Linked DNA regions of Homo sapiens. The protein of the gene in region 4 interacts with the protein of the main gene of each other region in a pairwise test. Each region holds a gene or a part of one and is shown on either strand. Other genes may lie near its edges.

Region 1 (7,862 bases), on a different chromosome or scaffold from region 4:
GAACAGAATAAGGAAGGGAAATAAATCTAAAACAGAGTAAGAGAAAAAGAATGTTATCCCCTCTCTCAAAATAAAGTGTGAATGGAGGGCACGGAGTATATTTAGTTTCAGTTAATGCTATAACAGAATACCATAGACTGGTGGTTTATCAACAACAGAAATTTATTTCTCACAATTCTGGAGGCTGAGAAGTCCAAGATCAAGGTGCTTACAGATTTGTTTTCTGGTGAGGACCCACTTCCTGGTTCGTGGATGTTTGTCTTCTCCCTTTCACATGGCAGAAGGGGTGATGGAGCTCTCTGGGTCTCTTTATATAAGGGCACTAATCCCATTCATGAGCGCTGTTACTCTCCTGACCTATCACTTACCAAAAGCCCCACCTCCAAATACCATCACATTGGAAATGAGATTTCAACATTAGAATTCTGGGGGCACACAAACATTCAGTCTACTGCAGACATTAAATAAGAATCTAGGGTAAATTCTAACAAAGAATACATTTGAGTTAAAGAGTGAAACATAAGACTTTAAGAAAGAAGGAACAGTGAAAATATTCTTTAGAATGAAAATGATAGTATTTATGTACTGAAAATATGTCCTTGACAGTAGTCATTGGGTTTGAAGTAAGTATGGTAGCATAATCTCCTAAAAGAACATTTCTGATACAAAAAGGAATTAATATTGTGCGGAAAAGGCATGTTCCACTCTCCCCCAGTCATACCCCAAGTTTGCACTCTTTGCTATTCCTGCCTTTAACCCCTTCTAATTTCTTTTCAATGAAACCACTGAGAAAGTAGGAAACAGAAAATGGTGGTAGTGAACCAGATATAAAAAAAAACTTCCAATGAAGAACTTAATAAATAACTTTAAAAAGAACATTTTTATACTCTAGCCATTATCATAGTACTTGGTAAATACGGGTATGTTGGCATCTTTTTCCTTGACCCATCAGAAGTCTTGAAAGATGTGGTCCTCCGGAGTTTCAAAGTGTTTTATTTATTGAAGAATGAATTTCACTACTAACCTTATTTCTTTCATATTCTACTGGCTATTTTACCAATATAAATTTAGTCTTCATAAATAAAAAAAATATGTTTTCATAGCAGCAAGTCTACGTCCATTATTGTGAAGTTTGCTTTCAAGGAGATTTCGTGTTCCATCATGAATTAAATTATCTGCTCCCTAAGTAACTTCATTTGCAAAATGTCAATAAAGTTCATAGCTCTCTATTAAAATTCGAGCCACTCTGTCATGTAAATACAGTTAGATGGTGAAATCTCACCACCTTCGTGGCAGTCATCAAAAACCTTTAAAAAAGAAAAAAAAATTATATTCAAATTAAAGTTTTAAAATATCTAAGACCCAACCACTTATTTAAAGCAAGATTAAAAACAAAACTTTCAAACTGAAAGGGACTAGGACTGTACTTAAGAACATATTATAGCCGGACGCAGTGGCTCACACCTGTAATCCCAGCACTTTGGGAGGCCGAGGTGGGTGGTCAAGACCATCCTGGCTAACATGGTGAAACCCCGTCTCTACTAAGAATACAAAAATTAGCTGAGCGTGGTGGCAGGCACCTGTAATCCCAGCTACTCGGGAGGCTGAGGCAGGAGAATTGCTTGAACCTGGGAGGCAGAGGTTGTAGTGAGCCAAGATCGTGCCACTGCACTCCAGCCTGGGCGACAGCAAGACTCCATCTCGGGGGGCGAGGGGGGAGCGGGAAGAACATACTATAATAGGGCCTGCTTTGTGATCATCAAGTTAGGAGTAGTAGAGAGGCTTTTTTTACTGTGGCATTAAGATGACCATGCTCACCTGTCTGCTGGGCAAAAGGCTATCACCAGGTAACACAGGAATATGGGCAGGGAGACCTATACATATGAATGACTTAATTTTGATTAACCAAATGTTTCATGTTTAGCTACCTTTTTGTGAAGGGTGCAAAACAGAATTCCTAATATGTTAGCCTTTTGTCTAGGGACTGAAACCAAGGCATAGAGAGCTTAGGCATATAGACAAAGGTTGGTATAATGAAATAAAACACACACAGGCTCATCTATAAATGCCATGAGGACTGGGACAGTGTCTCTTGCTTTCTCTTGTATCCTTAGTGCCTAGAGCATAGAGTTGGCACTTACAATATTTGGGAATGAATGAAGGAGGAGTGCTGGGGCATGCTGCAGGGGAAAGACATGATCTCTGGGTTTGAATCCCGGTTACTTCTAAGCTGTATGCCCCTATGTCTTCCTAAGCCTAAGCTCCCTCACTTTTAAGGGGAAATAACACCACTAGCTTCAAGAATGTAAGGAGGATTAAATGAGACCGCCTATGGAAATCATCAAGGACATATCTGGCCCAAGGTAGGTTCTCAACAAATCTCATTTTCTGCCCTATTTAGGTGAAATGATTAGCCCTCATCAAAAAGTGTCCATTTCAAGGCCAAGAGCAGAAAACGTAAATATCCTTAATGTGGTTGTTCCAAGAAAGAATGTAAAGCAGGGGGCCAGGTACAGGGGCACATGCCTGTAATCTCAGCACTTTGGGAGGCTGAGGGGATCACCTGAGGTCAGGAGTTCGAGACCAGCCTGGCCAACATGGTGAAACCCCGTCTCCACTAAAAATAAAAAAAATTAGCTGGGCATGGTGGTGGGTGCCTATAATCTCAGGTACTCAGGTGGCTGAGGCAGGAGAGCTGCTTGAACCCGGGAGTTGGAGGTTGCAATGAGTCAAGATTGTGCCACTGCACTCCAGCCTCGGTGATAGAGTGAGACTCCGTCTCAAAAAAAAAAAAAAAAAAAAAAGTAAAGGAATGATGTGTTCATTAAAGGTCTGTTCATCAAGGTTTCATGGAGGTTTGAATAGCTCTTGGTCAACCCTAAGAGTCTGAGAAAACTGGGCTGTGCTTGCTCTGTTTCTTAATGTGGCACTTGCACCCGTGGGCAGTCAAGTGTAAAGTGAAGCCACTTTAACTCACCGGGCAGAGTCCACAGGGTGCCCGGACCAAACCTGTGGGAGGGATGATTGGATTGACTGCCCTGTACAGTTTCATGTGTCCATCTACACTGCCAACTGTGCCTTCTTTTGCAGCAATAATCGTCATCTCCACTTTTCCATCATAAATGAGTGTATTCAGGATGGTTTCAATGTCTTCCATGGATAACTCTACCTAAAAAAGGGATACATCAGAAAGGACACAAGTAGGATAGGGAGACATCCACTTGGAGGGTGTTAAAAACAGTAAAGGGTTGCTGGGCGCAGTGGCTCACGCCTGTAATCCCAGCACTTTGGGAAGCCGAGGCAGGTGGATCACTTGAGGTCAGGAGTTCGAGACCAGCCTGGCCAACATGGCAAAACCCTGTCTCTACTAAAAATACAATTAGCTGGGTATGGTGGCAGGCACTTGTAATCCCACCTACTCGGGAGGCTGAGGCAGGAGAATGGCTTGAACCCGGGAGACGGAAGTTGCAGTGAGCTGAGATCGCACTACTGTACTCCAGCCTGGGCAACAAGAGCCAAACTCCATCTCAAATAAATAAATAAAACAGTAAAGGGTCATAATTCTGCTGTGAAATGGGAGAAACATTATGCTGGGGTGGAGTAATTTAAAGCACAAAGAGGAGGAACAATAGGCCAAGTTAGCACAAACCACTGAGGTGCCAGGGACAGAACTCTAAGCTCATGCTGAGTTTGACACTTTCTGGTATCTTTACTTCCTAAGTAAAATCGAGAAATCTTATAAAAAATAACATTTCTTTAGCAGGAATTTATTGGAGATTTATAAAATGCTTGAGCAGAAAGGCACTTTAGACATCAAATAGTCCAAGTTCCTAGTTTTTATGAGAAATCTGAGGCCCAGGAAATTAAAGTGACATGTCCAAAATGGCCACTTTGATTTCTTCACTGTGAAAAGCATCAGTGTCCTTAAAAAAAGAATTTCAAAAGGCTAGGGTACAGTGGCACTTTGGGAGGCCAACGCAGGAGGATCACTTGAGTCCAGAAGTTCAAAACCAGCCTGGGCAACAAAATGAGACCCTACCTCCAAAAAAATAAAAAAAGCATCAGTGTCCCAAGCTGAGTATCAGTTCAGACAATGCCCAATGGCAGTGACTGCCTTTGCCTAAGATACAGGACAGTATTTTCCCAAAGTGGATTCTGCAGAATGTTCGTAGCTATCATCTCAAAAAAAAAAAACAATGTGGGTCAAATACATGTTTGGAATACATTGTATGTGACAAAGAATAAGTTTTAAAAAATAAGATGAAATTCAGTTCTGACCTTACTGATTCCCAATTCGCAGATATATTTCCACACTTCATGTGATGAGGCAAATGAACTATTTCTTTGTATCATTGGGTTCTGTTTGCTTTCTCGTGCTGTTTCTGCCTATAAGGATTGAAACATAAGAAATGTAAATAAGAATATTGGTGTGTTTTCTGAATACACTTTATACTGAGTCAAACCAACAACAGAACATATTTAGTTAAGTAAAAATTCCCAATTTCAGGTTTTTAATTCCTATAAAATATGATAAATAGATTAAAATCCTTTGTGAAAAACTTTTTACAAGAGGGTTTGCAGTGATGTTTCCTCAATCATACCTCACCTTGGACTGTAGGAATTTAAAACACTGTTGGTTAAGCACCTCTACAAATTCAGATTCAAAATCCTGGTCACTGTACCAGGCTCCACCAGTCACAGACCGGTCTGGCTGCAGGTTATAGAGCATATACACCTTCTTTTTTGAGGCCTAGGAAAGAACATGCACAGTTCATGTGTTTATAAGATAACAATTTCCAAAAACAAAAACACCTATATTTTGGAACAGTTTAAGATGTACAAAATTATTGCAAAGATAGTACACAGAGCTCCTATATACATCATGCTGTTTCCCCTATTTTTAACATCTTGGATTAGTGTGGTACACTTGTCACAATTAATGAACTAATATTGATAAATCATTACTAACTAAATGCCATACTTTATTCAGATTTCATTAGTCCTAATGTTCCTTTTCTGCTCCAGGATTCCATCCAGGACATCATACTACATTTAGTCATCTCTCTCAGGCTTCTTTTAGTTGTGACAGTTTCTCAAACACCGTATTTCTATCACTATGGACTCATGAGTATTTATTTTATACTTTGATTTACATTCAGATACTTCATTGTTATTCCCACACTGGAAGCTTTGGAATGCTTTGGGCATTGGAAGCTTTTCACTTGGTTCCTGTATCCCTTTGCTATGCTCCCATCGTGTGTGTGTGTATTTTAGCACTTTTTTTTTTCTTTTGGAGACAGGGTCTTGCACTGTCGCCCAGGCTGGCGTGCACTGGTGCAATCTTGGTTCACTGCAACCTCTGCCTCTTGGGTTCAAGTGATTCTCCTGCCTCAGCCTCCCGAGTAGCTGGGGCTACAGGCATGTGCCACCATGCCCAGCTAATTTTTGTATTTTTAGCAGAGACGGGGGTGTCACCATGTTGGCCAGGATGGTCTCGATCTCTTGACCTCGTGATCCTCCCGCCTCAGCCTCCCAAAGTGCTGGGATTACAGGCATGAGCCCCCGTGTCCAGCTATTGTAGCACTTTCTTACTTTCTAGCACTACAAGATGTCAAGAGCATTTTCTTTTCTTTTTTTTTTTGAAACGGAGTTTCGCTCTTGTTGCCAGGCTGGAGTGCAATGGCACACGATCTCAGCTTACTGCAACCTCCACCTCCCAGGTTCAAGCGATTCTCCTGTCTCAGCCTCCCGAGTAGCTGGGATTACAGGCGCCCGTCACTATGCCCAGCTAATTTTTTTGTATTTTCAGTAGAGATGGGGTTTCACCATGTTGGCCAAGCTGGTCTCTAATTCCTGACCTCAGGTGATCCACCCTCCTTGGCCTCCCAAAGTGCTGGGATTACAGGCATGAACCACCCTGCCCAGCCGTCAGGAGCATTTTCTACATGTTCATTTTATTGCATGATAGAAACCACGACTTGGGCACTAGATGTGTTCATTGCCATCGGGATGTCATCACTTCTAGGCCTTCTCAGTTGGCAGCACGAGATTTATGTGCGCATATTAACCCTTGTATATATACATAGCTATACTCAATATTTCTAAATATAACCATCTATATTATTTATATTAAATTACACAAGAGTCCATACTGATGTTTTCAAGTCTAATCCATTACTACATGGATCATTCTAACTTTCCTTGTTTGTCTGTAACTACTCACCCCAACACTGAGGAACCCAAATTTCACTGGGTTGTAAACATGAAGAATTTGGGCCAGGCATGGTGGCTTATGCCTGTAATCCCAGCACTTTGGGAGGCTGAGGTGGGCAGATCTTTAAGTCTAGGAGTTCAAGACAGGCCTGGGTAACATAGTAAAACCCTGTCTCTACAAAAATACAAAAATTAGCTGAGCATGGTGGCACGTGCCTATAGTCCCAGCTACTTGGAAGGCTGTGGTGGGAGGATGGCTTGAGCCCAGGAGGTTGATGCTGCAGTGAGCTGTGATTGTGCCACTGCACTCCAGTCTGGGTGACAGAGCCAGACCATGTCTCAAAAAAAAAAAAAAAGAAAAAAATTTGGCTAGACTTTGTCCCTTTTTCCTAGGAAATAACTTCTACATCTTTGGAATTTCCCAATAGGCCTTGTTATTCATGGTGAATCCCTTAGATCACACCTGGGTTTATGCTAACAAGGTGACTCCTGATAGGACTCTAAATAGTTTCAGGATAGGAGTTGTCCATGCTGGAAAGACCAACCGCATGATTAGAGGGTTGGGGCTTTGGGCCACATGACATCAGTCCAATCTCTTGGGAGAAGAGAGGAGCTGGAGATTGAATTCACTCACATGACCAAGGATTCAATCAATCATGCCTGTATAATGAAACCCTAATAAAAACTTTGGACAGCAAAGCTTGGGTGGGCTTCCAAATTTGGTTAATGCTTCTGTCATACAAAATAATTTCACCACCCTAGAAATATTTCTCATGCTTCACCTATTCAACTTTCCCTACCATCCCTGCCCTCACCCCGATCTTTTTAGTCTGTCTAGTTTTGCCTTTTCCAGTATGTCATATAGTTGTAATCATACAGTATGTAGCCTTTTCGGACTGGCTTCTTTTACTTAGCAATATGCATTTAAGATTTACTCATATCTTTTCATGATAGCTTATTTCTTTTTATAACTGAATACTATTCTGGTTTGTCTATCCATTCACCTATTGAAGGATACCTTGGTTGCTTCCAGTTTTTGATTATGAATAAAGCTGCTGATTACGAATAAAGCTGCTATAAATATTCATGTAGTTATGTGGACATGAGTTTTCAAATCAGTTGGGTAAATACTTAAGAGCTTGACCTTTGGACAATGTGGTAAGACTCTGTTTAGTTTTGTAAAAACTGCCCAGTTTTTTAACAAAAGGACTGAAAATTTTGCATTCTTAGCAATGTATGAGTGTTCATCTTGGTCTGTATCTTGTCAGCATATGGTATTACCAATTTTTAGATTTTAGCTATTCTAATAGGTGTGTAGTGGTATCTCACTATACTAAATTTTATTTTAATTTGCAGTTCTCTAATGAAAAATAATGTAGAGCATCTTTTCATATGCTTATCTGCCATCTGTATGTCTTCTTTGGTGAGGTTCAGATCTTTTGCTCATTTTTAGTTGGATTATTTGTTTTCATTGTGTGTTTTTTTTTTTTTTTCTTTTTTTGAGATGGAGTTTCGCTTTTGTTGCCCAGGCTGGAGTACAATGGTGCAATCTTGCTCACTGCAACCTCTGCCTCCTGGGTTCAAGCAATTCTCCTGCCTCAGCCTCCCAAGTAGCTGGGATTACAGACATGTGCCACCACGCCTGGATA
Region 2 (7,862 bases), on a different chromosome or scaffold from region 4:
CAGCACCCACGGGCACATCCTAATGTAATATCAGCTTTGGGATTCTGGGGAAGTCCAGTTGGGAGGTTTCTGATTCAGATGGCTGGAGCCAAGGGGCTGAGGCAAAAATCTACAGGCCTGATACCAATAGAAATCAGCGTATAAGCAGAAGGGAAAGGGCTGTGGGTTATACAGAGGCATGGTCATTGTCTTCAAAAGACCATGCATTGCAAATATATATGCAGGTATGTGCGCTTATGTAACAGGGCTACTACGCGGAAGTCAGTGGACTCTCCGAACTGATCACACATATTTGGAAACAACTTGAAATCTAGAGAGAACTGTACAAATATTAAGAAATTATCATTATTGAAGATAGTGCCTGTCCAAAAGCAAGAAACATTTTATTTGAGATTTACAGTTTTAAAAAGCTAATTCTAAAAATATCATTGATCCCAAGAAAAGGTCCACTAGCAGGAGTGCTTATTAATTTGACTGGTTTTAGGTTGCTGCTTATTCACTTCAAAATAGTGCATTATTTTTATTACTCAGCTTTTTGTTATATGCACTCTGATGTCAGCATCATCTGTGAGCACAAGCTTTTCTCCGAGCTGTGGCTGTGCTGTGGCCATGGCTGGTTTTTGCATTTAGAAAGGTATGTAAGCTTATGTATGTCCTTCGTGTCCCCACATAATAGACACAACTATGTATACATGTTAATCCCACTCCATTCCCACTCTATTTTTCTCCATAGCTTTTATGCCGTCTAACATCATATACATTTCTTTGTTATTTTGTTCATTTTCTGTCTCTTCTCACTGAAGTGCAAGCTTCCTGAAGGTGAAGAGTTTCATCTGTTTTGTTCACAGCTGTATGCTCAGTACTTAGAACAGTGCCTGCTATGCAGTAAATATTTGTTGACTGACTGAAAATCTGTGTACATATGTATTTGTTTTAAGAAGAAGTCTATGGCTATCTCATTCTGATGGGATGGAGAGGAGGCCAGGAAGATGCCCTCTCAGAATTTTCCAGATCTCAAAGTAGGCATGAGATGTTCTTAGTCCCAGAATCCCATGGGGTCTAACAGGAAAAAGCACTCCCAAACATGACTCCAAACATGGCTAGGTGGTGACGAGGAGGAGGGTGAGGTGACATGGAGGGTCTTACCCTTCCTGGGCATCACTGGATGTTGAGGGTCCAGGCAGGTCTCTTCTTTCAGAAGAAGTGGCTGAATATACCTGGGCGACAGGTGACCCTTCTGGATGGCATAGGAGATCAGACCCTCTGCAGCTGATAAGGCAGCAGGGCTGGGACTGCTGCCTTAAAGAGGAGGACAGGGAGCACAAAAATGTCAGTAAGAAACTCCACCTAGACCAGACACCTGCAGAAAGGATGATATGACCACTTGAGCCTGAATAACTGGATTGGAAGAGAGGAAACTGGTCCAGTTGCCAGAACAGAGTGCCTAAGAGGCGAGAAGCTACCTAGATCTCTTAGCAGCCAAGGTTGAAAACTTCTTCCAAGAGCCAAGCTAAGACTTTATCCACTCCATCTCTAGGCAGAAGAGCTGGAAGGCAGTGAAGGATACATGCAAAGGGAGGCCCACCTGACCAAGTCAGGTGTGCACTAGCACAGGAGAAAAGGCAACCAGAATTTACTCATAGCTCCCCTGATCAGGTGTGCAGTAGGCTTTTTATATCTGTTAACTCATAACTCTCACAGAAAACCTCTGAGAGAAATGCTGTTACCTAGCCCCAGCTGTCAAATGAGGATGCTGGCAGGTGCTGGTTCCATATGTATTATTTCTCAGCTCCATCCCTGTTCTGTGCTTTTCTCTATTTTTCTAGGGGCTAGAAGCCTGCAAATTATACCTCCAGATTTCCTTGCCTGCTGCCTTCTGGTCACTTTCTACCAGTGGAACTGGAATAAGAGATGAGCCATGCTTCTCTGCCTCTGGCAGTCACAGCATCTATGTCAGACAACCTCAGACTTTAGAAGTGACAGCAATAACCGTGAGCTCAAGCAACGCCCATGCAAGCTTCAGCAATATCACAGGAGTACAGACCAGTAAAGAGAGGCAGAGGACAAAAAGTATGCATGTCACAGGATCCAAAGGAGAAAAGAATTTCAAGAGAAGGGTGATCATCAGAGAAGGTAAGTATGATGTAGGGTAAAAAGATGAGTGTTGACCCTTGGGAGTGGAGGAAGAGAGTGTACACAACTCTCCAGCACAGGGTCCGCAGGGAGTGACCCTTACCTATCTTATTGCCAAAGAAGGCGATGCCCAGGGAAATGTTGTTGTAGCCCTGGGTGTGCAAGCCTTGGATGTTCCAGCCAACACCTTCATACACCCTGCCATCATCCCCAACCAGGAAGCTGACAAGAAGGAAATAATGATTTTACTGCAAATCTCCATAAATGAAAACCTCTCACTGATCCTCAAAAGGAAAAGGGGTTCTGGAGGCTCATAAGTAAGTACTATGTTCCAATAACAAAACAATAGGAGGTGCAGAATAACCAGTTTTAGACCTCCAAGAGACATGGGAATATATTTTAATTTTTGTTGGGATTTAGCTTGCATGTGTTTTCCAGAACCTCACTTCAAAAATACTCATTTGGTTCAAAGTGGAATTTGACTGCATGACACTCAAGGACCTGAGGACATTAGTTCAATGCTTTTCAAGAGCTTAAAAATTACTACATCATGTTTTTAAATTATAGGACCAAACACTTGAACATTCTCTAAAATAATTATGCCAGATTCAATAGTTCCTTTTGTATTGATGTTTTTCTTCAGATTCTCTTTAGGAATTTCCTTAAGCTCTTCTTTATCATAGAAATTTGTTTAGAATGTTCCTTTTTCACATTTACTTTTTAAATCAATTTTTTATTCTACTTCTTTTATTCCTGCCTCTTTATAATTTCTCTCCTCCACTTTCCAATCAGTCTTCAGAATTGATGTTTTCACAACTTTGCCGTATTCATCTTTTAATAGAACATGAGTTTCCGCAGCAAACTGAACACAGAAAGAACACCTCCCTTAGGTCAAGGAAAGACACTGAACTGAGTCAGGCCGACTTTCCACCCTACACCGATGTCGACATGAGGAATGGGTGTGGAGCCTGGTGTGTCCACCCCTTCCCTGGCTTTGCTGCCAGTACTTTCACAGGTTCCTTGGTCACTCCTGCAGCAGCCTGTGGTTAGTACGGTGTGAACAGTCCCTTACAGCTACTGTCAGCTGCATTGCAAAAACTGGAGATTGTCAAGTTGTCACTGTAGAAACCTGACTTAGAGATGCAGAGGCTGAAATAACTTAGGAATACAGTGACCAAACCAGAAAACACAGCAGCGACAACAGCAGGATGGTGGAGGTGCTGGTGGCAGGGGCAGCAGGTGAGTCGTGGTTGACATGACATGCCCCATGGGCAGACAGGGAAGACCCAGCCATCCCAGGGGTGCTGGGGGCCAAAACCAGGGCCTGCAGCTGCTCTTATTTATTTGTGTTTAAAAATAAATAAATAAATAAATAAGACTTAGATTTTCCTTTCCAAAATGGATAATTCAGAAATTATTTATGTTTGTCTTTAGAGTTCCATGCGGGACAGCCCCATTCCCACTCTCTCTTTCCCTCTCCTTCTACATGTGTCTCCTCATTCTTGAGGCTAAGGGAGAAAAGGTTCTGGGCTTCCACTGATGATCCCCAGAGCAGAAACTCAATGCACAGTGCACAGCTCCTTCATGCCCTCCCTTGTTTCTTGCGGGTCTCTCCTCCCCGCCATTCCCAAAGCCCACTCTCCCCGGTGGGGTCCCCGGACTTGCTGTCAGAGTGGTCTTTCAGGGTAACAAGTGGGACACTGCTTCCCAGGTGCGAGTCCCTGTGAGGTGGGGAGGAGCAAGGGCTACACTGGCAGGTGCTCTCACACAGCTCTGGGTACGTGCTTCCTCTCTCTGAGCAGAGCTTTTAATTCCCCCAAACCATGGCTTTCCCGCCTGTGAAATAAGGGTAGGAATATGGGTAGGAACCCATTTCTCAGAGTAGCTGGGAGGGCCAAATCGGGTGATATTTGTGAAGACCTCTGTAAACTGTAACGTTTCGTGAGTTCCAAGGACTCAGTTAAAACTGCAGTTGTTACGTAACCTTCCTTGCTTTTTCACAGGAGCACCAGAATCGAAAGCCACTTAAATAAGTGGCTTAGAGTCATCCCTCTTACAATCCCCGAAGGATTCGGATTTTGTTTGATTCCCCTTTTACCATTTCTATTCATTACAAAAGCAATGTAAATGAAGCGCAGAAAATAAGAGCCACAGAGAAGGGGAAGTGGGAAGCACCCCCGTGACTTTGGATGTGGGCCTCAGGGACTTGGCTAGCCTCTTACTTGTACGCCACGTCGCACCAGCCTATGGTGTAGACGGAATGGGACTGCAACCCCCGCAGCATCTGGCTGCAAACGCTCTGCTGCTGGCACTGCATCCCTGGGAGCTGGTCTGTGATGATGTAGGCCACAGGCAGGGTCAGCAGGGCCCTGCAGGCGAGCGGTCTTGCCCCCCACTCCTTGCGGGAGACGATGGTGGGAGTATCTGTAGGGAAGACCACAGAATGGCACATAGCAGGCCCTGCCCATCTTCCCCCAACAGGTCGACCATGTGCCCTGACCTCTCATGCTCAGGCCCGACCTGCCCCATGCATGGGAGACACCCTGGGGGAGCCCTTCACCACCAAAGCCCCCTCCTTCTCTCCACTGTGGCTGAACCACTGCCCAGACACACGCTGCACTCAGCCTGGGAAGTCGTGCCGCCTTGTTCCCAGACAATCTCTCCTTGTCTTTCCCTGAAGGGCAAATCCCATCCCCTACTGCCCCCTGGCCTACATGCTCCCCTCCTTCAGAAAGCACCCCAGCCAACCCCGCCGCCCACCCTGGGGCTCTGAGCTGCCTCCTTAGCCCAGAAGCCTGAGGATGCATTTTCCTCACTGCCATTTGCCCTGGTCTCAACTGTGTCTCTTGTCTTCCCCTCCCCTAAGAACCATGACTCTCTGAAGGAAGCTCTATCAGTCTCCTCAACTAGGGACTCCAGAGCCCACAGGAGGCTCCATAAACACGGGGTCTGCACCTCTTTCTTCCGGGCGAACACTCCCTAGCGGCAGGGCTGTGAGATCCCACCTGCCGCGTCAGGCTACCTGAGGGCTCCCTTTCTCCATTCTCATCATGGGAGCCCCAGGAGCGCTCTGAGGGACAATGGAGACACTGTCATGCTGGAGCTGGGAGTGGAGGACATGTCTTTTCTCTCTGGGTTTTTTCTCCTTCTCTCTCTCTTTTTTTTTTTTGAAATGGAGTCTCGCGCTGTCACCCAGGCTGCAGTGCAGTGGCGCGATCTCGGCTCACTGCAGCCTCCACCTCCCGGATTCAAGCAATTCTCTTGCTTCAGCCTCCCGAGTAACTGGAATTACAGGTGCATGCCACTATGCCAAACTAATTTTTTGTATTTTTAGTAGAGACAGGGTTTCACCGTGTTAGCCAGAATGGTCTCGATCTCGTGACCTCGTGATCCACCCTCCTCGGCCTCCCAAAGTGCTGGGATTATAGGCGTGAGCCACCGCGCCCAGCCTCCTTCTCTTTCTTCATTTGAGTTTCTCTTCTTTTTCTCTCCTTAGGCTGAGGAACTCCCCTTTGCCTAAGGACTCAGGATGATCCATGGGAGTGGTTGGAGACAAACCTCCTGGGATTCCTCCCCACCCCTTTGACTTTCAGCCCAGACATTATCAAGTCCTGAGAAACATTTCTGACCACTTAAGAAGCCCCAGCCAATCTCCAAACCGCCTCACCATTGCGACCCTTGTGAATGAACTGTGAGATGCTGACAAACAGGTCCATAAGCCTCTGGGACAAGCCTCTGGCTTGGGTCTCACTCCAGGAGAACTGTGGAAAATCCCCTGCAAGAGAGCACTGGTGCATTGGTGCACTCCTTGGAGTGCACATGGCCAGCAAGCTCAGAGGCTGGGCCAGACATCCCACTCTGCAGTGCACAGCCTCTCCTCCTCCCCAGGTCACCTAACGTCTTCTAGCAAGCACACAGAGGAGAACCACAGAAGTCTCTGGCCTTGGCCTGCCTCTGCCTTCCACATCTGCCCAGAGAGGCCTTTGTCCTCCCACCTCCCCCAGCCTCCCTCCATTCCAGGAGCACTGCAGTCTCACCTGCTGCCTTATCTGGGCAGTGCCACCTTTCCTGGTTCACCGGCAGACCTACTAATCAAACCGTCGGTACCCAGCAGAGTGTCCCATACCAAGACAGTTGTGACATGTTGAGCTAACACACATGTCTTAATCACCTATTGGTGCCAGACAAGGTTCTTGAAACAGAAATATACAGATTATTGTGACCGCCTTCAAAAACTAGACGTTTTAGAGATGTTTTACTGTGGATTAGCCACTGCCAGCCTGTCCTTATCCCCCATTGCTCCCATTCAGTACCAGGGGTCCTGGGAGCAGTAGCCAATGGCAGCAGTGACATTGTTAGCAACCCCATCTCCCACAGACCAGCCCTGTGGTTACAAAGCACATCCAAGGATGCTATCAGAATTGTGGCTTAAAACAACTTCATGAGTTAAGCAAAGCAACTATGCTGTCTATAGAGAAGGGAAACCAAGTCTTAGGGAAGTTAGGTTACTTGTCTAACATAACAGAGGTTTTAAGCGTAGATTTAGATTCCAATCAGAATCTCTGGCCCCGAAGCCCCTGTTCATAACAACTGTACTCTGCAGCCTCCCCAAAGTTGTCAGATGAACTTGGGTTAGTCACTGCCACAATGTGACCTGTTTCTCTTCCTACAAGACAAAGTCACTGAGGGTCTCCACCATGATTCTGAGGTTCTGTCCTTCTGTGAAATCAAGAGCAAATACATGACCAGGACCCCAAGTCCAAGGTGTGCTGGAGAGACTGCTGAGGACAGGAGCCCACCTCAGCAGGCAGAGGGCCTAAGCTGGGCTGTGAAGGGGACACAGAGGACTGGGGAGGGGGAGGGAGGAGCCCGGAGAGGACACTTTACAAATGAAACCCACAGGACTCTCAGAGTGGAAGAGCAGCCCGCAGGCCAACACTGACACCTGGCAGGGCAGGAACCAGGAGGCAGGGATGAGGACCACACAAAACTCCCTGCTTTGCTTGGGCAAGTTAATTTCCCCATCAGGGCCTCAGCTTCTCCATTCATACAATGAAAGGCCTGTGAGTTTCTCTAACACTAACTCCAGGTAATCCCATTAAATTTGCTGTCTGAGTAGCAGAGGACAGAGAGAAAGCTATATTACATTTTTCCTTCCGAAGGGGGTCTGTGTATGTAAAACAAACTGAAAAACATGTCATATTTAAGAATCACCAAGCTCACTTTCATTTTAATTCAACAGCATTTATTTAATGAACATTGCTATGTGTCTACTCTTATGTATATAACGATAAGAAATCTTCTTAATCTAGAGAAACGGCATTGCTACTCTTGGGGAATTTGCTTTTATTTACAAATGTAGACCCAAGTGCTGGGTTTAACTATGACTGGTATAATAACGATGGTGACAATAATTAAATCATAGCTACAAATTACCCAGCACTAACTACTTGGGCATTGTGCTAAATGGCGCACACTTGTGATCTAATTTAATCCTCAAAAACAACTCTAAGAAATGAGCAATATTATCCTTTCATCATGGGAGCAAATAAGATTCCAAGAAATTGAATAACTTGTTGAAGACCATAACAAAGGACAGGCAAGGATTTGAAAAAAATCTGTAAACTCTAGAACAGGGCTCCAAATTGCAAAGCTACACTATCCACTAACAAAGTGAAAGCACTCGGATGGGTTTCTATTATTAAACTTGAGAACGGTCTTCTCTTGCT
Region 3 (8,226 bases), on a different chromosome or scaffold from region 4:
GCCTGGGTGACACAGTGAGACTGTCTCAAAAAAAAAAAAAAAAAATCAGGCTGAATGTGGTGGCTCACGCCTGTAATCCCAGCACTTTGGGAGGCCAAGGTGGGTGGATCACTGGAGGTTAGGAGTTTGAGACCAGTCAGGCCAACATGGTGAAACCCTGTCTCTATTAAAAATACAAAAATTAGCCTGATGTGGTGGCATGTGCCTGTAGTCCCAGCTACTTTGGGGGATGAGACAGGAGAATCGCTTGAACCCAGGAGGCAGAGGTTGCAGTGAGCCAAGATCGCGCCACTGTACTCCAGCCTGGGTGACAGAGCGAGACTCCGTCTCAAAAAATAAAATAAAATATAAATAAACAGATCTGACAACTAGAAGTATCTGTGAAAAAAGAAAAAAAATCAAGTAGCACATTTCCCCCCATTTAATATTAATAAGTGCTTGAGACTTTCATTTTTATCCTAAGACCTTGTAAAGATAAAAGACGACCTTTTGGCTTTTAAGTATTCTATACGCATGGGACACAAATTCAAACACCTTATAGGTAACCAGTGTATGAACTGGCCACTGTGAGATAACATGAAGAGAAAAGGCATCGGGTGATCTAGAAAGTGTCCATATTCCCTGAATGCATTTAAACTAAAAAAATTTATTTAAAAGTGCTGGCCAGTTTGAAACACATTCTATACAACCACTAAAAAACGCTTTCAGCCACTAAACTTACAAGTCCATGTTTCCAACTGTGATATTGTTTCATTTTTTCCATCCAATTTGTGACTTTATTTCATTTCGGTATATATCTCCCATTAGATAAAAATAACCTTCCTGTTTGCAGAAATCGTTGCCACATGGATAAAATCTACTTTTTACTTTTAGAAAAACATATTATCTCCTTATTATCCCTTTGGGGCAATTAACCAAGCATGTGAGGGCACCGAGAAATTAGTTTTGGTCTTACTGAAACCAAACAGCAAAGCTTGAATCTATTTCTGACTTTCTAAACTTGTTTCTCAACCTGTTTGTCACGATCCCTTTTGAAAAACAAAGATCTCAGATTATCCATCTCGGGACACTGACACTACATCCAAAAGATATATCTCTTGTGGCAGGAGATATACGCAGTGTATACTGTGTTTTTACATCAACAAATAAGTTTTTTTTTTAAAAAAAGCTTTATATTCTGTCATTTATATTATGAACACATTAATTATTCAAATACAAAATTATAATCACAATTTTGAAAACACACAAACCACTGAGCAATTACGATATGGTCCCCTGGAGCATATAGCTACCCTCTTCTGTAAAAAACACGTTACAGAAAACATGTTTACTGACGTAAAGTGAGCCCTGGGGCAAAGTAAACTTTTAAAGGGATCAACATATGAAATGTGTTTTAGCTGCTCAAATATCATGATTACTATCCTTAAAATAATCACACTAAGTGACCATTTCTTAAAACAGAAACTGTGAAAAACTGAAACTAAATTGCTGAAAATAACAAAACTCATTTGGATGAAAAAGAATAAAACATTGCTGACTCTGGGGTTGTGATCTGACAAGTTGGAAAACATTACCAGGACTTCCTGCTTCCATTTCTGACGTGGTTTCTAGGCTTGTTAGGTCTTTATGAAACAGTCGTCTTACAGTTCTGCAGCCTCTTGTGTCTTGCCACCTATAACCATCTTCATTTTCTTGAAAGGAGTCTTTTCTTTGTCGGTTTATAACAGGAATTCTAGGTCCAGGTTTGAATTCTCTCCAGTTGTCTGAATTACCAGTATGTTCATCAGACAGCCATCTCTTACTCTGATCTTTGTGGCTGTCATTCATCCAAGCGGGTTGACTGTAGATTGGGTTTTTAAATGCATATGGATTGCTGGAAACAGCACATGGTCCTTTTCTGGGGGTATTCCCATAGTTCCCTGGTGTTATCTTCTTTTTTTGAAGGCCCTTTTCCATTTTACTGCCATGGCCTTTAGCATGGTCATCTATTATTAAATAATCTTGTTGGGGGTGACCCCTTCTGAAGTCATCATCATCCATAGTCCCCCGGTCTTTAGTGCGCTTCACGAAATAAGGTTTTGCTGTATCTCCCATGGTCTTTGACTTCAATTTTCTTACTTTGCACCTGAAAGAAGGTATTTTGGGGAAATATCAAACTATATAACAAGATATCATACAAGTATACAAAATAACAATTTATCGTACAGATGCCCCAAAGCCTGTAAGAAAGAAACTCCCTATTTTTTTAAAATAAAAATTCTATCACATTCTTAATAATCAGTGCTTTACCCTAGAGGTTGGGAGGCTTGGTCCTCTAATATTCTTCATGAAAATTAATACTTACTATTTAGCATGAAGATTAAATGTGTGAATAAGAGAAGCTCTATAGGTTCCAGAACTGTAGCATAGTAGAATATTACTCATATCAAGTATGGTCGGCTTTTCCCTCTGTAACAAGGCGTTTCTCTTCAAAGAAAACCTCATCCCAAGCCAATATTATTACTAAACTACCGAAACAGTCTTTTGTTTTTTAAGTTGGCAATTACTTGTAAGTGTTATACACCGAAACTTTACGTGAAAGGAGTACTACATTTCTCAACTCCAATTTTCCGTCCCTTCACCACCCCTATTCTGGACAGACCGGCTTTGAGCGCTTAGGTTACGGAGGGGCTGGGCTTCCGACCAAGGTGCAGCTGTAATTAAAGAGGCTGGGTTTCCGATCAAGGGACAACTCCATCTAACCTCCTCAATCCCCGTTCTCCAACCCCAAACAAGTTTGGTTTTGTCAGGAACAGCAATTCCCTGAGGAATGACACTCCTCTTCAATCCCCATCTGACCGCTCCACCACCGATCTGCCTTAGTTTCCACCCTTTTGAGCCCGACGTGGAGAAAGAGGAGGCGTCCCTGCACTCCTGGCCAAGAAGCCACCGTGGGGACCAGGAAGCAGGAAGTGACCTGCTGTCTCCATGGGGTTCCAGGGTTCCCCCGGCCGGCCAGGGGGCCAGAGCCGAATGTCTTGACCCAAATCCCGTCTTCTGCGCCCGCAGTCTGACAAAAAGTGAAAACACGGACTCGAACCCGAGGGCTCAGCCTCTGCCGGCCTGGGGGTTCCTCGGTCACCCAAACTGGTGCGAGGAGGCCGGCGGGGGATGGAACCAACGTACCTCCGGGGCCAGGCCGGACAGCTACTCTGGAGTCCAGGAAACCAACTGGAGAATCAGCCCGGAGGCGAGTCTGGCAGGGACGTTGGGAGAAGGCGCCCAAGAGCACTCACCACCTTCGCCGCGGTCCCCAGCCTCTTCCTGTCCCGGCCGGGCTCCCTCTCCGTGTTTTCCTTCGGCCCCACTTCCGGCGCTCAGCGCTGTCTCATTGTGCGCGATTGGGAGCCGACTGTGCCCCCGCCCTAGCGCTCCGCCGCGCACACCGGAAACGAGCGACGCGCCCCGCCCCGCGGTGCCCCGCCCACGCTCCGACCCCGCCTCCCGCGCCTTTGCCAGCCTGGCCTCTCCTGTCCGGCGCCCCAGCGCACTCGCTCCAGGTGTCGGGCGCCGGGTCTGGCCACCGGGCGCAACCGTCGGAGCGGGCTAATTACTGGCTCGCCGGATAGCCGGTTCGCCGGCGCTTGGGGGCCAGGCCCGAACTTCTTACCAGAGCGGCGCCCGCCCCTTTTCTCTCCCGGCTTCGACGCTCCTCTGGTTCCCCTCTCTGCTCGGGAGGCTAAGTGCTCGGGAGAGGCGCGGGAGCCAAGACTTATGCACCCGGAGAGGGACGCGGAGCCAGCGGTCGGGCAAAGCCGCATTCCCCGCGCTTGGGGCCTCGGCTTTGCCCCTGGGTGCTCCCCGGTTACTTCCAGGGGGAGTAAAGGCTCCGAGGCCTCGTAGCGCTCTTGGTGTTTTTCTGATAATTCGTAGTGATTAATGTTTTCGTGAATTCTTAATTGCCGACCTTGTAGAAATGCCAGCATTTAAACATCCACTGCTCACCCAGATCTCAAAGTGGTCAAGGAAAATGCTCTGCTTTTTTCTTAGGTTGTGTAAGGATTACTTTTACTTGGAAAAAAAAAAAATCAGTTCATTTCGAAGAATATGTGTAATGGCAAGGGATGACCAGAGAGCGTTACATTCGAATTTTTGAGTTGAAGAGTGCACACCTCGAACTCGGGGTTGCTTTTTCTTTCTTTACTGTATGACCTTCCTTGCTGTTTACAGTGTTCTAAATGCTTTGAAAAACATCAAGCAACTAGTGAAATTAGGGAGCGTTGGGAAAATCGACAGTTTTCATTTCTCTGCTTTTTTAAAGCATGTAAATTGAAAGCTGTCAGGTCCTGTGGAGCAATGGTCTTAAAATAATAACACACAAAGTTCTGGCTATGCCAATAACTGTTTTGAAGGCTTTACAAATATTAACTCCTTTGTTTTATATTTTTGTAGAGACAGGGGTCTCCTATGTTGCCCAGGCTGCTCTCCAATTCCTGACCTCAAGCCATCCGCCCAACTTGGCCTCCCAAAGTGTTGGGATTACAGGGGTGGTCCACCATACCCAGCCTTAACTTCTTTAATCCTCACAGCTTCATGAAGACTATATCATTATCCCACTTTTAAAGATGAGGACATTTAGCACTTGCAGTGAAGTAAATGGCACTGCTGCAATCCAGACCCTGAATATGAGGCTGTTATTAACCATGTGGCTATACTAAAAGTGATATAAAACACATTCCTACAACTTTTATATAATTCCTTACTTAGATATTTTGATTGTGAAAATACGTGAGGATCAAACTGATAGTCTCTTCAACAGGCAGACAGTGGCCTTGAAAATATAGTCCAAAAGGGAGTGTGGAGATGCATGATTACATTAATTCTGAGACAGCAGCGTCACCACGCCCCACCCAAACCAGTAATTCCTGTGCAAAAGAACTGGTTTAGAAATCTGCCTCCACCTAGAGTTCTAGAGTAGCAGCAGAGGATACATACTTTTAAGGATTTTTTTTTTTTTTTTGAGATGGAGTGCCACTCTGTTGCCCAGGCTGGAGTGCAGTGGCATGATCTCCGCTGGCTGCAACCTTTGCCTCCACCTAGAGTTCTAGAGCAGCAGCAGAGGATACATCTTTCTAAGGATTTAATTTTTTTTTTTTGAGACAGAGTCTTACTGTGTTGCCCAGGCTGGAGTGTAGTGGTGCGATCTTGGCTTACTGCATCCTCTGCCTCCCAGGTTCAAGTGATTCTCCTGCCCCAGCCTCCCAAGTAGCTGGGATTGCAGACAGGCACCACTATGCCTGGTTAAGTTTTGTATTTTTAGTAGAGACGGGGTTTCACCATGTTGGCCAGGCTGGTCTGGAACTCCTGACCTCAAGTGATCCACCGGCCTTGGCCTCCCAAAGTGCTAGGATTACAGGCGTAAGCCACCAGGCCTGGCCCGATTTAAAATACTTTTGCCAGGCACTTTGGCTCCTGCTTGTAGTCCCAGCAACCCTGGAGACTGAGGTAGGAGGATACCTTAAGCCCAGGAGTTGGAGGCTGCAGTGAGCTATGATGGTGCCACCACACTCCAGCCTAGGCAACAGGGCAATACCCTGTCTCTCTCAAAAATAAATTTAAAAAATAAAACGTTTTGAATTTGCGTTTTCTTCAACGTCTTTCCCAAAGCCCAACTTCTTTTATTCTAATGGTTGCTTTTAAGATTCATTTTGAGGACAAATCAGGCTCTCTCAAATAAGATGCAGTACTAATCAAAATATATTGACAGCAGAATATACCTTTTTCTGTCCATATTATGCTGTAATGGATATTTAAATTGGTCCTAGGAATTCTTACAATCTGGTTGGAAATTTTGATTTGAGTTTTCTTTGGATGTCACTGGAAGGATTAATGAGTTTCTCAGAATCTTTATGGTGATTGCTTCACGGTCTTGACATATTTCCAACAACCTGGAGCAGAAATGTGAGGGCAAAGGCTGCCATATACTGTTAAGCAATGTTCAGAGGACCTTAATACTGCTCCATATGTTACAATATATTTTCTATCTTGAGCTTAACATTGTAATACAACTTGAAATCTTGTGATTCTATCTCGAAATTAACATTTAATACATAATATGTCTTGACATTCTTGTAATTCTATCTAGAAATTAACATTGTAGTACATGTAATACATCTTGGCATTTTTGTAATTCTATCTTGAAATTCACATTGTAATACATGTAATACATCTTGAAGTTTACATTGTAACACATGTAATACATCTTGACATTCTTGTAATTCTATCTTGAAATTAACATTGTAATACATCTTGACAAGTCAACTTTGAACAAACCCAGTGCTTTTTTTCTATACAGCCATGGAGTCAGAAATACAGGAATTATATTCATAGCTTTATCAGCCAAATTCTTTCCCCAGTGTTTTATTTTGTTTGGTTTGGTTTGGTTTTCGGTTTTTAGAGCTCTAATGCTTAAATGCCAGCGGTTTTTATCCACATTGTTAGCAAGTTATGTTGGTTTGTCCTTCAAATCTGTCTGGAGTCCAGTAACTTATCACTACTTTCTCTGCTTCCAGCCAAATGCTCACCACTATCACTTGCTTCCACCTTGTCCTCCAATCTACTCTTGACACAATAGCCAGAAAATGCATATTAAAAATCAGACTGAGTTACCCCTCAAAACCTTTCACTGGCTCCCAATTTCTCTGGGAGTAAAAACCAAAATCCTTCAATGACTCAGGGCCTTTCCCTTTACCTCCCGATCTCAGCCCTTATTCCTCTTACCCCAGTGGTATAATATAAAATATATTTGGCCTTTGTCCCCAGTTTCTGTCATAGAGCTCTTAAAATCCTTGAAATTTCCTGAGTGATAGAAGTGTCTTTCCGTGTTTATAGTGAGCCCCTAAACTCCTGAGTTTATGCTAATGAGATGATTTAGGATGGGGGCCCTACATAGCCTCAGCATGGGGCTAATCACCAGAAAGACCAAGTGATTGGAGGATTAGAGGGTTAGAACTTTGAGCTTCACCAACTGACCTCTGTGAAGGGGAGGAGGGGGCCGGAGATCAAGCTCTCTAAGTAGTCTTGAACAAAAAGATTTGATGAGATTCCCTATAGTTGAACACATGTAGGTGCTGAACGTTGGCTCACCTAGACAGGGCATGGAAGCTCTGTGCCCTTGCCCTATGTACCTCTTCATCTGGCTGTTCATCTGTATACCTTATAATATCATTTATAATAAACCAGTAAGCGTGTTTCCCTGAGTTCTCTGGGCCACTGGGGACACGGGAACCTCAGAAACCAGTCAGTCAGAAGTATGGGTGGCTTTGACTTGTGACTGGTATCTGAAGTGGGGGCAAACTCGTAGGGCTGAGCCCTCACCTGTGGGATCTGACACTATTGCCAGGTAGATAGAATTGAAATGGATTATAGGACACCAAGTTGGTATAATTGCTTCTGTAAAGGCAGAAGGAACTTTATACCCTCAGAAGCTTTGATGGTTTGAATCTATAAAACAAACTGACAATAGACAGATTAACAGGAGAAAAAACATATCGATTTATTAACTTGCAAGCTAGCGAGACCCAAACAAAGTATGAAACTCAAAGAAGGGCCAAATGGCTGAAGCTTAAATGGGACCCTGAGCTACAGAAAGAAACCAGGGCCTCTGATGGGGAGGTGGTGACCACAGTCATTGAAAGGTGAGGGTAGAGTAAGTGTGTGTTGAGCAAAAGTTTCTTCTTATACAGATAAAGTCTTTCAGACTAGAAAAATGGTTTTAAAAAAATAGGTGAAAAGTGTGTCCAGCCAGACGTGGTGGCTCACACCTGTAATCCCAATACTTTGGGAGGCTGAGGCCTGAGGATCACTTGAGCCTAGGAATTTGAGACCAGTCTGGGCAACATGACAAAACCCCATCTCTACGATAAATACAAAAGATTAACCTGGCATGGTGGCACACACCTGTAGTCCCAGCTACTCAGCAGACTGAGGTGGGAGGATCACCTGAACCCAGGGAGGTCGAGGCTGCAGTGAGCTGTGATTGCACTACTGTACTCCAGCCTGGGCAACAGAGTGAGACTCTGTCTAGAAAAAAAAAAAAAGCCTGTCCAGGTACATTGTCCTGGGCTCTCCTGAGATACGAGTTCATCTTCTCTAGTTAGTGTAGATTCCAAGGAGGGGGTCTAAGACAATTGCATTTCTTCTGGAGAAACTTCCCTTAATCAGATAAAGGAAGTTTAGAGAAAGTCC
Region 4 (7,862 bases):
ATTTCTATGTATTATAATTTAAGCCTTGGGTGATAAAAATCTCACAAAGTTACTTATCCCCTCAATTTGGTTCCAAAAGGAATCAGCAGGCTGAAGACATTCAGACAGCAATTGCTAGCTTTTTCCTTCTAACTACCAGCCCCATCAATCCACACTTACTTGTCAGCTGCATGGCAGATTGTGCCACAAGTGTCAGCCATGTCATCCACAAGGATGGCCACCCGATCCTTCACATCTCCCACAAGCACCATGCGGTCCACTTCATTGGCCTTCTTCCGTTCTTTGTGAATCAAGGCAAAGTCCACATTCAGCCTGTCTGCAATGGAGGTCACTCTGCAAAACAGAGCGTGTTCATATGTATGTGTGGCTTCTAAGACAAAAGAAATGGACTAAAGAGGCCGGGGGCGGTGGCTCACGCCTGTAATCCCAGCACTTTGGGAGGCTGAGGTGGGCGGATCACAAGGTCAGGAGATAGAGACCATCCTGGCTAACACAGTGAAACCCCATCTTTACTAAAAATACAAAAAATTAGCTGGGCATGGTGGCGGGCGCCTGTAGTCCCAGCTACTCGGGAGGCTGAGGCAGGAAAATGGCGTGAACCCAGGAGCTGGAGCTTGCAGTGAGCTGAGATCGCGCCACTGCACTCCAGCCTGGGTGACAGAGCGAGACTCTGTCTCAAAACAAAAAAAAAAGAAAAAAAGAAATGGACTAAAGAATGGGCTTGTTTTGGGGAGGAGAATACTCCTTGAAACCAATAGTTCCCAGGGCTGGAAGAATGAAAGCAACTATCATTGACTTCTCAAAGGCAAATATCACAAACTGGGTTTTATAAACCAGTGCCTCCATAGCTCAACAGAAGCTTATGAACGTACTGATCAAACTTAGATGAGTATTCATTCTGGGTAGAGGACAGACACCCTCACCAGTACTGGGAAGCAGTATAACGCTAAGACACGCAAGTTTATTTAATGGATTGGCAGCAGAAGGAATGAGGAAAGAATTAACTAATGCCAGGAGTACACAGACTGTCCCAATTCCCATCATGGAAGACCCGTGAATGGGGATGTGGTGAGAAGAGAACCTGACTGGCAGGAGAGGAGCAGCATCCAGCCTGTTCCAATGCCTGTGTCCTCATCACTTCCCTCAGTGCTGTTGGCAAAACATCCATCAACTGTCACTGTCAACTGTACCTGGACACCAAGCTTGGGAGTTTTTTTCACAATTGCTAGACAGAAAGTTATATCAATTACCCAGACAAGCTAGGCATCTCACCATTCGGTCCAAAGTATCTTCCAATCAAAGAGAATTCTTATTTTTCTTATTACAAGAGAAAATAAACCAGACTAGAAGGTAGGATAGAAGACAAATTTGTCTTTTGACAAAGTACCACATAATTCAAACAAAAATCTATTCAGTGTAAATGACAGTGAGCTGCCCCAGTGGCACGTCTGTCCATGCTCCGCTGTGCCATCTCCGTCATGTGTGAAGCAGCCCGTGCTTGGGGATTTGTCCTGTTTTTTAATGTAGAACTGAACAAACTATAGCATTTTGTCCTGTTTCTCTTGTGACTATGGTCACATGAGTTTTTGCTGGATAAGTGAGAACCTGTGACCACATAATAAGGTTTGAACCATAATCTAGGTAACATTTGTACCTTGATCTAAACCAACCATACCCTGTACTCTCCATTACTACTACTGCATAAGCACATAACATCAGTGGTAACCAATTCGCTTGGAATGATTACTTACCCAAGGCAAATGCATGATCAATTAGTTCAAGTATCCCAAACCAACCATACTCAAAGGCCAACAAATTCAGTGACCAACAAAGCATAAAAAGGGCTAGAAAAAGTAACTCTCTACACCTTTTGAGGAGAGAACTACTGTACAAATGAATATCACACAGGGATCTCTACCTACTCCCCAAACCCTGCCAACACAGAAGTGATAGACACTCAATTGTAAAATACTCCATCACTATAAGACAATGATAATGAAAAAAAAATCAGGTAGCAATAAGTTGTCTACTAAAGGCAGTTTTCCTATACCCACCTTTGGAAAGAAAATCCTGCCTATTTCAAATGTGACTATTTTCTAAGTCCCACAGAAAGATATTAAAATAATGACCGACAAATTAAATATGACAACTACTAGTTGGGGGGATGTTTCTTAGGCTGTCTCTAGCATTACAGATGGTAACTAGCAATTACATGGGACTCACCAACCCATATATCTGGCTGGATAACATAACTCAAGTTCTCAGCTTATCAGTTCTGTTGAAGTTACTGAAATAAAAGAGGTTGTTGAGAAACAGTCATTGAAGATTTGAATGGCTTTTAGAAAGTTCTGAATTAGCTCTTCCTAATCATCTGTGTTTTGTAGCTCTTCATTCTATTTCCACAACAAGAAGAACATGTGTCACACTTTTGAATGCATTACTAACGAGTAATCCACTAAGGAAATCAAGAGCTCTTAGTCTGCACCATGTGAGCTGCAAAGCACTGTTAACTGGCAATCCCTGGCAATCAGTTTGTTTAAAATGTTAAGATCTTGGCTTTAAATAAAAATGTCACACTTTACTTTCCTTCCTGCTTAATATTTTAATCCCAAGGATCAAAATGATCTAACCAACAGCATTGTAAGAGGAGTGTAAAAGCGAATTTGTCCACCAATATGTGGTTCAATAGCAGCTGCTATTCATTAGAAAACCACATTTTCTACCCTTCCCAAAAGGTTTATAGCTGTATTGCTAGCTCTGTAGCACCAAGTTACTCATAAGTTATAGTCAAATCCATAATATGATGATTTAGGACCCCTTTTCTGTCTTGTCTTCCGAGTAGTAACTGAGGACAGTAAAAGAGGAAAGGGTAAAACTATATTCAACCCATGTGCTAGCTACTTACATCCATTCAAAAATACTTAAAAACTGCCACTTGGATAGAAAAACTTCACTTTGTGACACAACCATCTGAAAGATTTTCCCAGTACATTGGGAACAATACTAATTTCAACCATACCTCTTAGCTCCACCAGCATCAGGTGAGACAATAGTGCAGTTCCTCCACTCAGAGATATTCTCCCTTATCCACTTTAGGACAGCCGGCTCTGCATACAAATTGTCTACTGGGATATCAAAAAAGCCCTGTAGAAAGAAGCTGGATCAGTTTTGCTTCACTTTCCTTCTCTTCCATTTATAAATGGCAAACACAAAGTAGTAACTTGCTCAGAGAATGTCTTACTGCAACATTCAAACTGATGGGAAGGCAGGCCCAGTGTGGTAGATTATAAAAGCCTCCTTGAATCTGGGCTATGTGAGAGAGCCCAGCCAAGATCAGCAAAGCCAGCCCTCAGTCAACCCACAACTGAACATAGGAACATAAGTGAGCCCTTGTAAAGAATGGCTAAGTTCAGACAAAACCATTAAGAACTGCCCAGTCAACATGCAGACTCAGTGAGTTTGTAAATACTGCTTTATGCCACTAAGTGTTGGACTGATTTGTTAAGGAGTAAAAGCTAATGGATAAACCAGTTAGAGATGCTATGGCATATAAACTTAATGGAAGCTACTTATGATAAATAGTCACAGTGAATAATTAGAAATCAGGAGATCTGTGTTCTAATTCTAGTTGATACAAATTAGTTGTATTTCTCAATTAAGTCATTCCTTTCCATAAAAGGAGTACAGTCCCTGTCCAATGTACTTCATTGAATTCCCACAAGCTTGAAATGTAATGATTTGAAAAATCTCTTTGAAAAAATATAAAATAAAGGTGGTATTCCACCCCCCTTACTTTGGGTTTATGTTGGAAAGTAGGCTCCAATATCTGTGGCTCTAAATTTAAGACCATGAGGCCAGGCACGGTGGCTCATGCTTGTAATCGCAGCACTTTGGGAGGCTGCAGCAGGCAGATCACTTGAGGTCAGGAGTTCGAGACCAGCCTGGCCAACATGGTGAAACCCCATCTCAACTAAAAGTACAAAAAAGTTAGCTGGGCCTGGTGTCAGGTGCCTGTAATCCCAGCTACTTGGGAGGCCGAGGCAGGAGAACTGCTTGAACTGAGGAGGCAGAGGTTGCAGTGAGCCAAGATCGTGCCACTGCACTCCATGAATATTCAAGGAGAATAAGAATGATAATAACAGCTCCTATCTATGAGTACCTGTCATGGGCCAGGCATTATAATATGAATTTAATGTTTTATACTCACAATAATGAAAAAGTATATGTTCAGAGAAATTAAGTAACCTTCCCAAGCTTACAAAGCTAGTAAATACCAGAGCCTTTATTCAAAGTAGTGCTCTTCCCATAAAACTAGACTGCCTCCCTATCTAACCACCTGAAATGACTAAGATCATGAAGTATGCTTAAGGTGAACACATTTAAAATGTTGTTGATATCTAGTTTATTTCAGATGTACTTGGGCATAATTTTTGGCTTCTCTGCAGTCTTCAGCATCATCAGTCCTTTCCTCCCACCTTTCAAACACCAATATTTAGCTTCCACTGATACCTGAATTTGAGAAGCATGTAGGTCCATGGTGATAATATGATCTGCACCTGCTACAGATAGCATATTTGCAACAAGCTTGGCTGAGATTGGCGCCCGGCTCTAAATGGAGGGGAGGAAAGAAAAGAAAAACCAAAAAGCCAATTTGAAAAACAATTCATTTACTCAAGAAACTATTTATTGTGTACCTACTATGTTAAAGGCACTATGGTACCCAGAAATTCATAGAAGGAGACATGTCCATTGACTTTAAGTGGATCATAATTCAGAACAAATATTAAGTGGAACATCACTTTTCCAAATCAGGATACACTTATCAATAAAGAAAATGCTTTCCTAACTTTTGTTTTCTTAATGTACACATTTTCAATCCTATTCAAGTGTTTCCAATGCTCAATTATTCAAACTAGGCAGACTTTAAAAAATAATTTTATTAAAATCTCTTTCAACACATACATATGTAAACCTTTAACACCTAACATGTCAAGGTTTGAAGATACATCACAGAATAGATATTATAGTTTCCTTTGTAAATCACATCACTACTTACTCATCTGGAGGTCAACTTTCCAACAACTATGAACTCCTCAAATAAAACATACTTGCTGCACTGTAAAATAGCAAAGTCCATGCATGCCTTTTTTTTTTTTTTTTTTTTTGTAGAGACAGAGTCTTGCTCTATCGCCCAGGCTGGAGTGCAGTGGCATGATCTCAGCTCACTGCAACCTCTGCCTCCTGGGTTCAAGCAATTCTCCTGCCTCTGCCTCCCGAGTAGCTGGGACTACAGGCGCGCAGCGCCACGCCTGGATAATTTCTTTTGTATTTTAGTAGAGACGGAGTTTCACAGCGTTGCCCAGGCTGGTCTCAAAACTCCTGAGCTCAGGCAATCCTCCCGCCTCGGCCTCCCAAAGTGCTAGGATTGCAGGCGTGAGCCACCGCACCCGGCCCATGCCCTTTACTTTATACTCTGTTGGAATAAAAATATCTGACCTTCTTCGAGGCATTGTGTGTAAAATTGGGCATTAATTACAATAGACTTGCAAAGTTTTATGTATATGCCTTATCCTCTAATATACCAGGATAAGGTGAGAGATATATATAGTTTATCTATCTATCTATCTATCTATGTATCTATCAGATCAAGTATTCATATAACAGACTTCAAGTTTTATGAAGAGGTCACAACTAGGATCCCAATCTTACAGTTTGAGAGGATCTACCGTAATTTTAAAAATATACTCCAGTACTCCAGAGGAGTTGGTGCTTAGTCTTACTGATACAATTAAAAATACCAGTGAGCTAACTGAAAGTTATATATGTATCACTGTAATAAAATACAGACTACAAATGTGTTGCTTTATACAAACCAATTATATTTCTATTGTTTTGAAGATAGGGTAATACCTAAGAAAAGGTGATTTTTAAAATTCCCCCTAAATATATATTTGATAATTTTGGAATTTATTTGTGATTTGGGGCAAGTGCTCCTGCTTCCTCTGCTCAAAAAATAAAATTCTGCTCCTACCTTATCTTTCTTATCCTGCCGGGCATAAGGGAAGCATGGGATGACTGCAGTAACCCGGCTGGCTGAAGCAATCTTGCAGGCATTAATCATGATCAAAAGCTCCATTAAATTGTCATTGATTTCGCCACAACCACTCTGAACAATGTAGACATCCTCTCCACGTACACTTTCACCAATTTCCACACTACAATGAGGAAAGAAAGAACATGAAATAGATTTTAAACCACTGTACTGTCAGCCCTCCATATCCATAGGTTCCACATCTATGGATTCAACCAAGTGTGGATTGAAAATATTTGGAGAAAAAATTGCACCTGTATTGAACATGTACAGATTTTTTTCTTTGTCATTATTTTCTAAATACAGTATAACAACTATTTACGTAGTATTTATATTGTATTAAGTATTATAAGTAATCTAGAGATGATTTAAAGTATATGGCAGGGCTGGGCGCAGTGGCTCATGCCTATAATCCCAGCACTTTGGCAGGCCAAGGTGGGTGGATCACTTGAAGTCAGGAGTTCGAGACCAGCCTGGCCAACATGGCGAAACCATGTATCTCTACTAAAAATACAAAAATTAGAAGGGCATGGTGGCAGGCGCCTGTAGTCCCACCTACTCAGGAGGCTGAGGCACGAGAATCGCTGGAACTCAGGAGGCGGAGGTTGCAGTGAGCTAAGATCACACCACTGCACTCCAGCCTGGGCAACAGAGTGAGACTCTGTGTCAAAAATAAAATAAAATAAAATAAAATATATGGGAGGGCCTGGCATGGTGGCTCAGCACTTTGGGGAGCAGGGGGCAGGGTAGAAGGAGGATCATTTGAGCCCAGGAGTTCAAAACCAGCCTGGGTAATACAGTGAGACCCCATCTCTACAAAAAATAAATAAATAACAATAAAGTATAAGGGAACATGTGCATAGATTATTTCATATGGCCGGGCGTGATGGCTCACGCCTATAATCCCAGCACTTTGGGAGGCTGAGGTGGGCGGATCACCTGAGGTCAGGAGTTCAAGACCAGCCTAGTCAACATGGTGAAACCCGTTTCTACTAAAAATAAAAAAATTAGTCAGGGTGTGGTGGCTCACACCTGTAATCCCAGCACTTTAGGAGGCCAAGATGGGTGGATCACCTGAGGTCAGGAGTTTAAGACCAGCCTGGCCAACACAGTGAAAACCCATCTCTACTAAAGTATAAAAATCAGCCGTGCATGGTGGCACACGCCTGTAGTCCCAGCTACTCGGGAGGTTGAGGCAGGAGAATCACTTGAACCCGGGAGGCACAGGTTGCGGTGAGCCAAGATCACGCTACTGCGCTCCAGCCTGGGCAACAGAGTGAGACTCCGTCTCAAATAAAAATAAAAAAAAAAAATTAGCTGAGTGTGGTGGCAGGTACCTGTAGTCCCAGCTACTCAGGAGGCTGAGGCAGAAAAATTGCTTGAACCGGGAGGCAGAGATTACAGTGAGCAGAGATCGTGCCTCTGCACTCTAGCCTGGGTGACAGAGCAAGACTCCATATCAAAAAAATATATATATATATATATATATTTATATTACACTATTTCATATCTGCAGATTTGGTCTTGGGACCAATCCCCTGTGGATACTGAGGGATGACTTTACTATACTTCTATAGACAATAAGGTCTAAGAACAGCTTCCCTACTAGTATGCTGTGAATGGTTACAGCTACATGTGGATATTGATCACCTAGGCTTCAGGAGATCCTCTGAAGGAGCCTTATACCAGAAGCAGTTCACTGCCTCAGTTTACTCCAGTGCACTATACAAATATTACCATTTTCTATGGTAATATTTTCTAATATTACCAT

What was found.
Region 1: the proteins of PRPS1 (region 4) and POLR3F interact in binary tests that used the Homo sapiens proteins (3 or more experiments, as listed by UniProt).
Region 2: the proteins of PRPS1 (region 4) and PGLYRP3 interact in binary tests that used the Homo sapiens proteins (3 or more experiments, as listed by UniProt).
Region 3: the proteins of PRPS1 (region 4) and TUT7 interact in binary tests that used the Homo sapiens proteins (3 or more experiments, as listed by UniProt).

Annotation. Positions count from the first base shown.
Region 1 is NC_000020.11:18,476,926-18,484,787, reverse strand, and holds the end of POLR3F (DNA-directed RNA polymerase III subunit RPC6), read right to left. Parts: intron 4,751-7,862; coding exon 4,607-4,750; intron 4,387-4,606; coding exon 4,279-4,386; intron 3,170-4,278; coding exon 2,978-3,169; intron 1,308-2,977; coding exon 1,230-1,307; 3' UTR 142-1,229; downstream 1-141. UniProt on the Homo sapiens protein: DNA-dependent RNA polymerase catalyzes the transcription of DNA into RNA using the four ribonucleoside triphosphates as substrates.
Region 2 is NC_000001.11:153,302,711-153,310,572, forward strand, and holds part of PGLYRP3 (peptidoglycan recognition protein 3 precursor), read right to left. Parts: intron 6,326-7,862; exon of another isoform or gene 6,171-6,325; intron 5,909-6,170; coding exon of another isoform or gene 5,801-5,908; intron 4,558-5,800; coding exon 4,356-4,557; intron 2,356-4,355; coding exon 2,237-2,355; intron 1,300-2,236; coding exon 1,147-1,299; intron 1-1,146. UniProt on the Homo sapiens protein: Pattern receptor that binds to murein peptidoglycans (PGN) of Gram-positive bacteria. Has bactericidal activity towards Gram-positive bacteria. May kill Gram-positive bacteria by interfering with peptidoglycan biosynthesis.
Region 3 is NC_000009.12:86,351,106-86,359,331, forward strand, and holds the start of TUT7 (terminal uridylyltransferase 7), read right to left. Parts: upstream 3,306-8,226; 5' UTR 3,166-3,305; exon of another isoform or gene 2,345-3,165; intron 2,126-2,344; 5' UTR 2,095-2,125; coding exon 1,575-2,094; intron 1-1,574. UniProt on the Homo sapiens protein: Uridylyltransferase that mediates the terminal uridylation of mRNAs with short (less than 25 nucleotides) poly(A) tails, hence facilitating global mRNA decay. Essential for both oocyte maturation and fertility.
Region 4 is NC_000023.11:107,637,648-107,645,509, reverse strand, and holds part of PRPS1 (ribose-phosphate pyrophosphokinase 1), read right to left. Parts: intron 6,216-7,862; coding exon 6,032-6,215; intron 4,609-6,031; coding exon 4,510-4,608; intron 3,145-4,509; coding exon 3,020-3,144; intron 334-3,019; coding exon 160-333; intron 1-159. UniProt on the Homo sapiens protein: Catalyzes the synthesis of phosphoribosylpyrophosphate (PRPP) that is essential for nucleotide synthesis.